Regions from separate parts of the Homo sapiens genome. Here region 2 is linked to region 1. Evidence: fine-mapped expression QTL. A gene starts in region 1. The other region holds a variant in brackets. All regions are shown on one strand. Distances are between the middles of the regions. Region 1 holds the start of LINC00887 (long intergenic non-protein coding RNA 887). Region 2 has its middle 10 kb from the start of LINC02048.

Region 1 (5,377 bases):
TATTTCAGCCCTCCATGAAGCTTCGTGGTTTAGCTTTACAATGGCCCCTAGAGAAGATCTTACTAAGAGCTGTAGAAAAAGGTTGCGTTGTGCTTAACTGCAATCCTTTCACATGTGAGAGCAAGCTAACATACATCCGTTAGACACCTACTGTTTTCAGAATCCTGCCAGAGGAGCAGTAGGTCTTTTTCCTCAGTGGTTTTCTCCCACCCACAGTCACCAGTGTAGATAGAAGCCCTTGGAACCACGTTCCGCAGCAGCACAACAGGTGGGGCTTGGGAAGACAGTGCATCTCCTGCTAGCCAGGCTGCCCAGACCCTGGGGTGAGTGTCCAAGTAGGTCTTGGACTACCCTCTTCCCCCAGCTTTTAGAAAATTCTCACCCAATTGGACTGCTGTGAGGGGGACCTGATCTGAACCCTCAAACTCCTGCTCTGCAAAGCCTAGATCAGACAGAGGCCCAGCCTCAAAAGCACCTCACTGTTCAGGCCACACAGGCAAGCTCCCGGAAGCTGGGCATGGAGCACTGCCACACGGTATGGTCCTAATTCTCCTGTCTCATCCTCCGCAGCCTTTGCTCCTGGAGCGGCTGTGTTGGGTGTTCTGGCACCAGTGGCCACACGAGCCATGCTGGCCCCTTTCCCTGACATTTTTTAAATATAAATTTTTAAATGTGTCTTTGAGATGAAAGCAGGAATGCCAAAAGTAGGCCGACGCTTTCTTGTGTTCAATTACAGCCCTGGGGAGTACCCCACACAAGGAACTGCTCAGAGCTCCAGCCAAGATGAAATCTGCTTTTCCAATAAGCACTTCAAATGGCAGGGGATGTTGTTGGCTGGCTTCAGCAACTGGGAGGCCAACAGTTAATAGGGCTGGGCACAGAGGCAGGGCTGCCCGCCATCAGGGGAAATCTGAAGCTGCCTTTCACAGCAGCTTTCACCGCAACTGAAGTTACAAGACACTTTTCTGGCTCCCCCAAGCCAGTGGCATGAACCCACCTTTGGACTTCATTGAAAAGAACTTCCAAGATTTAATCTTCCAAGATTAAAGATTTTGATATCCAATGTATGGAGAATTAATTACTCTCTATACAGTTTTTCTTCATTATTTTCTCAGGCCAAATTCCTTTACAGTAAGTGTTAGGCATGTCCAAATTATTTTATTGGACTGGAATTTTGTTGGTTTGAATATAGGCCATGCCAGAAATGCTGATAAAATGAAATGAGGATACTGATGGTGGTGGTGAGGATGGATGGATGGATGCGTGGATCGATGGATAGATGGATGGATGGATGCATGCATGGATGGATGGATGGATGGATGCATGGATGGATGGATGCATGGATGGATGGATGGATGCATGCATGGAAGAATGGATGGATAGATGGATGGATGGATGGATGGATAGATGGATGCATGGATGGATGCATGGATGGATGGATGGATGCATGGATAGATGGATGGATACATAGATTGGCTGGTAGTAGAAGTAGTGGCAGTGTTATAAGCTAAGTAGGGAAAGGTCTAACAGCTCCATTTCCCAAACCTGGAAGCTGAAATTCCACAAAGCAAATGACTGGCCCAAGCTTACCACAGGTGAGCCTGACGTAGAACCCAAGCCTTCTAAGTTATGCACTCCTCAAGACACCAACTTGTACTTCAGTAATCTGTGTCACGCTGTGACTGCATATCCATGTCCTGCCCTGGCACAGAGCTTTCCAGACTCAGTCACAGTCATAGGTGCATTTTGCCTGGTTTAGTTACTAAGTATTGGCCAATTATCAAGTCATGAAGGGAATCGTCACCAGGACTCGGGATTCCAGCTTCATTCTTGAATCCCTAAAGCCATTCCTGGATTTGAACACATATTTCCTGACCCGTTAGGTAGAAGAAGAAGCACCAGGGTAAACAGCAGCGATTTCCAAATTGCGGTGTGGATAAAGGATTTGTTAAAATACGTATTCCTGGGCCTCATTTCCCTGCCAGGTTCTGAATGAGGAGGTCTGAAGCAGGTGCAGGAAATACAGGTTCAATAGCAAAACACTTAACCTCTTTGAAGTCTCAGTCCAAATGTCACCTGTGTAAGGTTTATCCTGACCACTCTATCTAAAATTGCAACACACATACAACCTCGTCACTCCCCAGCACCTCACCCTGCTCTCCTTTTCCCCCTAGTGCTCTCACCTGTTAGATATTGACTTGTTTCTTTTTAATTTTTTTTTTTTTGAGACAGGGTCTCTCTCTGTCGCCCAGGCTGGAGTGCAGTGGCACAATTACGGCTCACTGCAGTGTCAACCTCCTGGGCTAAGACAATCCTCCTACCTCAGGCTCTCAAGCAGTTGGGGCTACAGGTGCACCACCACACTCAGCTAATTTTTGTATATTTTGGTAGAGATGTGGTTTCACCATGTTGCCCAGGCTGGTCTCGAACTCCTGGGCTCAAGTGATCCTTCCACCTCAGACTCCCAAAGTGTTGGGATTACAAGCATGAGCCACAGCACCCGGCTGACTTATTGCTTATACTTGTTTGTTCTTGGCCTCCTTTGGCCAGGACCTGTCTTCCTCATTGCTGAATCCCATGAGCCTGGAGCCATGCCTAGGTCAGTAACTCCCTGTTGAAAACAACAGAGACTGAAGGAAGAAGTAACTATAATTAATGCAGGTGGTTCGAGATGCACACTTGGAGAAACACTGCTCCAAGAGCATGAAGTTGGCACCAGCCTGACGGGGGTTGGGTCCCAGCTCTACCCACCTGCTGTGTGACTTCAGACAATTTCAGCCTCCTGCGCATCAGTTCTCTCTCATCTGTGAAATGGAGACAATCCTTCTATCTTAGGGCTGCAACACAAGGATCCAGTAATATAACCAGGCACAGAGCAGGACGCTGCAGCGATACTCCCTCCCTTATCTTCTGGGTGGAATTTTGCAAGCAACGGTGTCTGAGCAGAAAATGAATCTGAAGCCTCCCAGGGGGGAGGGAGCACATTCTGTTTCTCATCAGGCGGAGAGGCGGGGAGGAAGAGTGAATGGAGGTCACCCATCGAGGGGAGTGTATAAGTCATCCCTGCCGGCTACCTCTGCAGCTCACAGGACACACGTTCACCTCCCTCCCTCCCTCCTTCCCTTCCCACCAGCAGAAATGAACAAGCAGTTTCTCTGAGTAAACAGATGATAAATCACTGGCTAGAATCAGTACTCCCGCCAAAGCAGCATCATTGGAGATCTCAGGCAGAGCAAGCGCACGTGCTTGGGGACTGCAATTTGGGTTTAGAGGCAGCCCTGCCAGGCCTGCACACTGCCGGGTGAGCATTCCTCCCCAAACAGCCCAGCCCGCTTCCCCGGGGCTCTTGGAGTAAGTCCCGCAGACTCTTGCCAGCCCCACCTGGAAGGACTTAAGCTCCAGCGTGGGGGATGCGGGTGAGATGGGAACGAGGATTTCCTGACAGCGATCCTGGAATGGGTGACTGAGCTTATAGACTTTTTCTCTGAGTTTTATGAAGCAGATAGGATTTGGAGGTAAAGAGACAAAATAAAAAATGTCTACACACACACACACACACACACACACACACACACACACACACACACAAAGACAAACACATTATACACCCCAAAGAGAGGAAAAGAGAACAGCCCCTGCAGAGGGGGATCAGGGCATCTGTCCACATGGATGTCAGGACAGTGGCGGGGACACACAATCCAGAGTCCAGAGCCCACGTCCAAGCTCCAGCTCCACCACTCACTGTCCAGTGACCTTGGACCAGTCTCTCTCCCAGCCTCCTCTCGGGGTTTCTTCCTCTTGAAGCACGAGCATGCATCCCTGATGCTCCCTGAGCTGATGTTTCATGGGTCTCTGATTTCCAGTTGGGCCCTGGCCAGGCGCATTGCGGAGGCAGTAGGGAAACTTGCCCAAATGTGTGGCCACCCCAATCTTCTTGGCCAGCCCCCAGCCCCAGCTGAGATCCAATTCAAAGCTTGGACCTTTACTTTCAGAGTCTACGATGGAAGGAGCAGGATTCGTACTGACGTCCCACACCTTTTTCCTGGCTTTCTGTCCCCGGTGGAGGCTCTGTGCCTGGCAGGCTAAACGCCCTCTGAGCTCTTAGAGGCAGTTTCCACCCTCAGCCCCTGCCCCAGCTGTGACAGCCTCAGGGTCAGGCTGAGCCCTGGAACCGTATCTGCTCATCTGGATTCAAGGAGAGACTACTGTTCTTCAAAGTAACCCCACTCCCGGTGGAACCCAGCCGCCACTCCCACAGGGCTGTCCAAAGTATCCCACTAGAGACCCCAGCAGGAGCTTCTGAGGAATTAGCGTGGAAAGGGATCTGCCAGGGTCTGGTTGTGTGACCTTGAGCAAGTCCCTTACCCTCTCTGGGTCTCAATTTCCCCACCTGGCTGGGCTGGCTCTGTGCCATCTGCCCAATGCCCTGTCTGGCCGCTGGCAGCCTCTCCCTCCCTGGGGCTGTAGGGAATGCTCCCCTCACTGGCCAGCCAGGGGTGGGGTTCAAATGGGGGAAGCCAGGAGCAACCCTTGCAGTCAGGGCTCCAGGCAGGAATCAGAAGAGAAGCCTCCGCCTCTTCTCCCCAGCAACATCTCTTCCCATCTTAGAATTATGGGCTGGCAAAGCCAGGGAGGCTATCAGGCATCATCCAAACCATTATGTACATGGCCTTCCTCCAAATGAAATCTCACACAAATATCAGATTGGAGGTTTGGGAATGGGGATAAGGGGATGGGCAGAGATGAAATATGGCGTGGAACATTTATGATAAAGACAGCTCTGGGCCAGGCACGGGGTGGTTCACACCTGTAATCCCAGCATTTTGGGAAGCCAAAGCAGGAGGATTGCTTGAGACCAGCCTGGGCTACACAGTGGGACTCCGTCTCTACAAAAAATAAAAAAAAATTAGCTGGGCGTGGTGGCGCATGCCTGTAATTCCAGCCTCTCAGGAGGCTGAGGTGGGACAATCGCTTGAGCCTGGGAGGTCAAGGATGCAGTGAGCTGCGGTCACGCCACTGCACTTCCAGCCTGGGTGACAGAGCAAGACCCTGTCTCAAAAAAAAAAAAAAAAAAAAAAAGACAGTTCTGGCGTCCTGGTTGGGGAAACTCCTCCAGCCATGGAAGACCCTTCCAGCCAGCTGGGGCAGCTAGACAAGACAGCGTTGCTCTACTCGGCTGAGTTCTCCTCTCCAGAATCAACTCCCATCGCTGCTTAAAGGGAGTAATGTGGCTGTGGGGGACAGAACACTAGAGTTTCATCAGCAACCTCGTCACCCCCAACATACAAAACGCTCCTTACAAACGCAGTCCTATCTGTGCTGCTAAAGAAGGCAATCCCCCCTTCACCATCCCATCTCTTCCACTTCTGTGCATGAG
Region 2 (5,377 bases), 26 kb before region 1:
TAGTGTCAATGAATTTGTAGACACATCTTCAGAGCCACCACAAGGAGTTTGATCCAGTGACTCTCAAGGTTCCAGGTCTGTGGTTATGACGCCCCGATCCCTGGTACATTAGGCATGGTGAAGAGAAAAGGACCAGAGGTGTCTGCTGCACTTCGTCTAGGTGGGCTGTGTTCTCCTCTCAGTAGAGGGGGCCTGGAGATGAGGGATGGAGATTGAGGAGGTGTGCTTCTCAGATGGATGCACACATCTGGAGGGCTGCCATTCTCCCCAATGATCCCCAAGCCTTAGAGTGACTGCCGAAAGGGTTCTATAAGCACATGGCTGGGGCCTCTGACTTGAGTGCCTCCTGCTGCAGCAAGGAACAAGGTTCCACCCGCTCAGTGGATCTGGGGTCTGGCGGCTGGACATGGAACCCTTCCCAGGGACAAGCCAACCAGAGATGTTCCCAGGCTCCGTCTTTATTCCAAAGGAATAGGGAGGACCAATGCCAGGGCATTAGGGGATGAACCAGGAAGGGTGTAAGCCCAATCCTCTCCTACTGACCAAGGAAAGAAGGGAACAGAAAATCACTTAACATCAGGTTCTCCTAAGAGGTCTTGCAGTGCGAGGTAAATCACCTAAGCTTGGTGTTGGGTACATCTGGGTTTCAGTACGGGCTCTGTCACTACTACCTATGTCCCAGCCACTCTAGGCTTGTTTCCTTACCTACAAAATGTGCATAATGAGAGATTTCATATCATAGAGCTGGGAAAATTAGAGAATCCATTTAAGACCCTTAGAGTAGTGACTAGCACATAATTAGCACTCAATATTATTATTGTTAAGTTTGCAAAAGATATCAGAGCTCATTCAGCTCCACTGCACACCTTGCATAGGAATTCCCTCCAACTGATGATGATAGAGGATGCTTGGGCCACTGCTTTGAGGACCTGGGATCTCACTACCTGCCCTGGCAGCCTAGGACCACAGGGCCAGCCCACAGATGGGCAGCTCACACTGGACCCAGAGCCATAATCAGCCTTTCTACGGCTGCCTCCTCCACTTCTCTTCCTTTTGTAACCCAATAGCAAACAATAGTTTTGAATTTAAAGTAGCCCTGTAACACAGGAAAGGAAAAATAAAAGTGCACCCTCCTATTTTAGCTTAGGTGAAATCTGCTTGGCAATCCCCCAAACGTTTGACTCAGCCTCACTTGCATCTTGTTTCATTTTAAAGCCAAGTTATAACTGACACATGCGATCGAAAGCCCGGTATGTTACAGGGATGGGGAAGGAGGATGCCTGCCCATAAGACTAAGTACGACCATTCAGACTGGGAGTAAGCAGATGCGTGTGCTGTCGAGTATATTGGCCGGAGAGGTGTATCTATAACTGGAAGGACACGTGTGTGTGTGTGTGTGTGTATACAGGAGGGTGAGTGGTGTGGACTGTTATGTGCGTGTGTGGATAAGTAGGGGGAGTGTATGCCTGGGCGTAGATGTGTGATGCGCGTGTGTGGATAAGTTGGGGGAGTGTGTGATGCGCGTGTGTGGATAAGTTGGGGGAGTGTATGCCTGGGTGTAGGTGTGTGGGTGTATGTTGGGTGTGTGTAAGTATGTGGGTATGGGTGAGGGCTATCCTGGTGCTCCCTGGCCAGGGCACAGTGATCCCCAACTGCAGAACAGCCACTAATTTGGGAGTGCATTTCTTTTTATACCAACTTCCCCACTCTTTTCAGGAAGCTGCATTTGTTGGCCAGGATTTGAGATTTCTTTCACTGAGGCCTCCGGAGAGACATTCCAACGGTGAACACAGAGCACAAACTCAAGAAATAAAACCACATGTACTGCCTCAAAGGCAACAAGGCAGGAGGGTGTAAAAAACCCCAGGGGGAGATACAAAGGCTCAAAGTTCTGCAACCCACACCCCTTGGAAAGAGAGTAGGGTCAGCTCCTCTCCCACCCCAAACTCCCAGTTTGAATTTTTTAAAAAAACAGCCTTATAAGCAAACATCTGCCACTCTCCGGCTTCTGAATGAAAGGTGAAGATCAGAAAAAGGAATCTTTGTGTTTTCATTAGGTATTTTAGCAAATGCAATGAGGACATTCAGATTTGATTTCCCTGTTTTGTACACACACATAAGTCGGTGCTAAGAGGATTACTTTTCCTGGAGCTGCGTCCTTCCTAAAGGCCCCCGTCAAAAGAGACCCTTGTTCAACAGTGTTTTCTCTGATTCCTCTGGCTTTTCTTCCTTGCCTCAATGTGCACACATCTAGCTTGCTCCTAAATCCACCCACCTCACAGACTTTGGGATAACGATGGTCCCGGCACTCCATTCTCCTCCTGCCCGGGTTCCTTAATAAAGCTGGAGATGAACATTAGTGCTTGGTTCAGCAGCATCCGAAAGGGAAACGGTGGCCTCCTCGAGCCCTCGATGCCCCATAGAAAAATGTAGCCTTTTTGCCTCTGCTCCGATGAATGGCTTTTCGAGGGTTTTCATTAGGACCGGGTCTGCTGGTGCAGAAAGCCTCACAGATGTTGACATTTTTTCATCCCTGGGTTAAGATGTCTTCCATAAGCTTTTATTCCTCATTTGTTACTTCTTTATTATCCGGGAGGTTTTGCCTCCTCCCTCTTCTCCTTTCTCTGAAGAGAGCAGCGGTAGCTGAGCCCGTCATTATCTCGGCCCTTTTCTCCTGCCTCCAGAGGCAGCCCGGGACTCGGGTCCCATTGTGGCAAACAGCAGGTAGCTGAGGCAGGCCGGGTCACTCCCCAGACCCTTTTGTGCGGCCGTCCCCTCCTCCCTGCAGCTTGGTTCTGGGGATGTAAAAGGTCAGGAGCAGCCAAGCTTCCATACCTGAGCTTTTGTCTGGGGCTGGAGGCAAATGATTTTAGAAGCAATTTCTTGGAAAGCAGCCTGGAGACTCCCGTCTCCCTCGTTAAAATGCACAGCTGTACTCC[T/C]AGCCCACTCCTTGGGGCTGGGGGTGAGGGGACAGGGGGATTAGCTCAGATCATCTGGATCCAAAAATGCCCTGAGAAAAAAACTTTCTACCCAGAGGATGGTTGAGACAATTCAAATAGAAGCCTAGAGCCCTGAGATGCTAAGCAGTGTTTTGTGATAAACAGAGTGTGGTGTTCTGTCACTTTTGACTCTTCTTTGTTTTTAGTCGTAGCAGCCTGCAGCCTCCCTGCAACCTCTCTTTCCTTACCTGTCAAATAGAAATGATCCACCCTCCCTACCTGCCTCACACAGTTTACTAGTTATTCTGTGGATCCAAGGAGGTGATATAGAAACTGTTTTGCAAGCCATAAGATTCCATACGGCATTCACCATTTTTGCCCTCTGCTGGCTGTATGGACCCTGACTTGAATATAAGCCATCCCATAATGCAGTTAATTTTTCTGAAAATTATAGAGCAGAGATACAGGCAGATTTAAGGGCCTTAGGGCATGTGGTTCCAAGCCCTGCCCAAGCTTATGCTTTGCAGGTGAGGAAGGTCTCGGGGCAAGACAGGCTTTCATGGTGGTAAATTCCTTGAGGTTTGATGTAGCTCCCCTTAGAAGGCAGCTATGGGAAGCCACCTGCAGAAAGCTGGTGTGCAGATTTATGTAGGGAAAGATAAAAAGGGCCCAGGGGTGCTCACCAGCCACCAGCTTAATATAAGCCTTTGCAACCTGGCTGCCGGAAGAGCCAATGGGAGCTTAAGCTGCCTACCGGAAAGAAGGGGGTCCCCCAGGCTCCACCCAGGGTGCTGAGACCTTTCTGGACATCACATCTGGAGAGAACTGTGCAGGTACAGAATTCTGCTCAAGGGAAAGAGACTAGGATCATGAGAGGACTAGAAATCTCACTCTTACAAACACTGGCTGGGGAAGCTGAGGCTGCTTCCCCTATTTGAGAGTTCAGGGATATTCGTAGGGAAGGGGAATCGGGCTCATTCTGTGTAGCCCTAGGGACAGACACTGGGACTGCAGAGTGGAAGCTGAAATGAAAGTGTTTTGAGCACATGAGAGGAAAATATTTCAAATGCCCAGAATTTAAGAGAGAGTGAACAATCTATCACTAAGGGTAATCTAGCAAAGTGGGATACTGGGGAGAAGATTCATCATCCCTGAGCATTCATTTAGGGCTTACTCTGTGTCAGGCCCAACATGTCCTTTCTAATCATGAAATCACTCCATTCTTTGATTTATTAAGAAATATAACATTCCTTTTAAACAACCAGGTCTCACAACTCACTATCACGATGGCAACACCAACGGGGATGGTGCCAAACCATTAATGAGAAGCCAGCCCCATGATCCAAACACCTCCTACCAGGCCCCACCTGCAGCACTGGGGATTACATTTCAACATGAGACTTGGGCAGGGAAATAGATCCAAACCGTATCAACAAACATAGGCAAATCACATCTATTTTAATATACTAGCAATGAATACATGGACAACAAATATAAAATATAATGTATAATCAAGAAAATGAAATATTCAGGTGTTAATATAACATATAATCAAGAAAATGAAATATTTAGGTGTAAATATAACTAAAGATGTCCAGCACTTATGTGTTGAAAACATCAAAATGCTAATGAAAGAAATCAAAGAAAAATCTAAGTAAATGGTTGACATATGATAGTCATGGATAGGAAGAGTCAAAATAGTAATGATGTCAAATTTCCCCAAACTGATATACAGGTGCAACACAATTCCAATCAAAATCTCAGCAAGATTTCTGTAGATGTAGACAACAAGCTTATTCTAAATGTATATGAAAAAGCAAAGGGAGTTGAATAAGTAAAACAGTTTGGGGAAAATAATTTGGGAAAAGTCATATTACCTGATTTTAAGACTGATTAGATAGCATCAGTAACCAAGTCAGCATGAGGAATAGATACAAAGATCAATGAAACAGAATAGAGAACCCAGAAATGGGTCCTAGATATTCTAGGTATGAGCCCCACACAAGTAGGGCCAACTCATTTTTGACAAAGGTGCAAAAGCAATTCAATGGAGAAGGGATAGCCTTTTTAAGAAACAGTACTGGAGCAAATAGATATTCTTGGGCAAATAAGAAGAAAGAAAAAGAAAGGAACCTCAACCCCAAAATCATACCTGTTACAAAAATTAATTAAAAATGGACCATAGATTTAAATGTAAAACATAAAACTATAAAACTTTCAGAAGATAACATAAGGACAAATCTTCAGGACCTGTGGTTTAGTGAAGAGTTCATAGACCAAAAGCAAAAAAAAAAAAAAGACAGAAAAAAACTTTTAAGTGATAAATTGGACTTTATCAACACTACAAACTTTTGCTCTATAAAAGCCCCTCTTAAGAGGAAGAAAAGACAAGTTATACACTGGGAGAAAATATTTGCAAACAGCATATCTGAAAAAGG

What was found. PIP is the estimated chance that this variant, and not a neighbour inherited with it, causes the effect.
Region 2: its variant is the best candidate, but not a certain one, in a credible set for the expression of LINC00887 in adrenal gland (GTEx, PIP 0.52).

The regions. Positions count from the first base shown.
Region 1 is chr3:194,309,850-194,315,226 of GRCh38, forward strand. LINC00887 (long intergenic non-protein coding RNA 887) reads right to left here and starts at 2,955. Exons shown (of 3, transcript NR_024480.1): 1 at 2,752-2,955.
Region 2 is chr3:194,284,253-194,289,629 of GRCh38, forward strand. No RefSeq gene overlaps it. Among named protein-coding and RNA genes, the nearest start is that of LINC02048, 10 kb to the left of the region's middle. The variant T/C (reference allele first, on the strand shown) is at 2,940.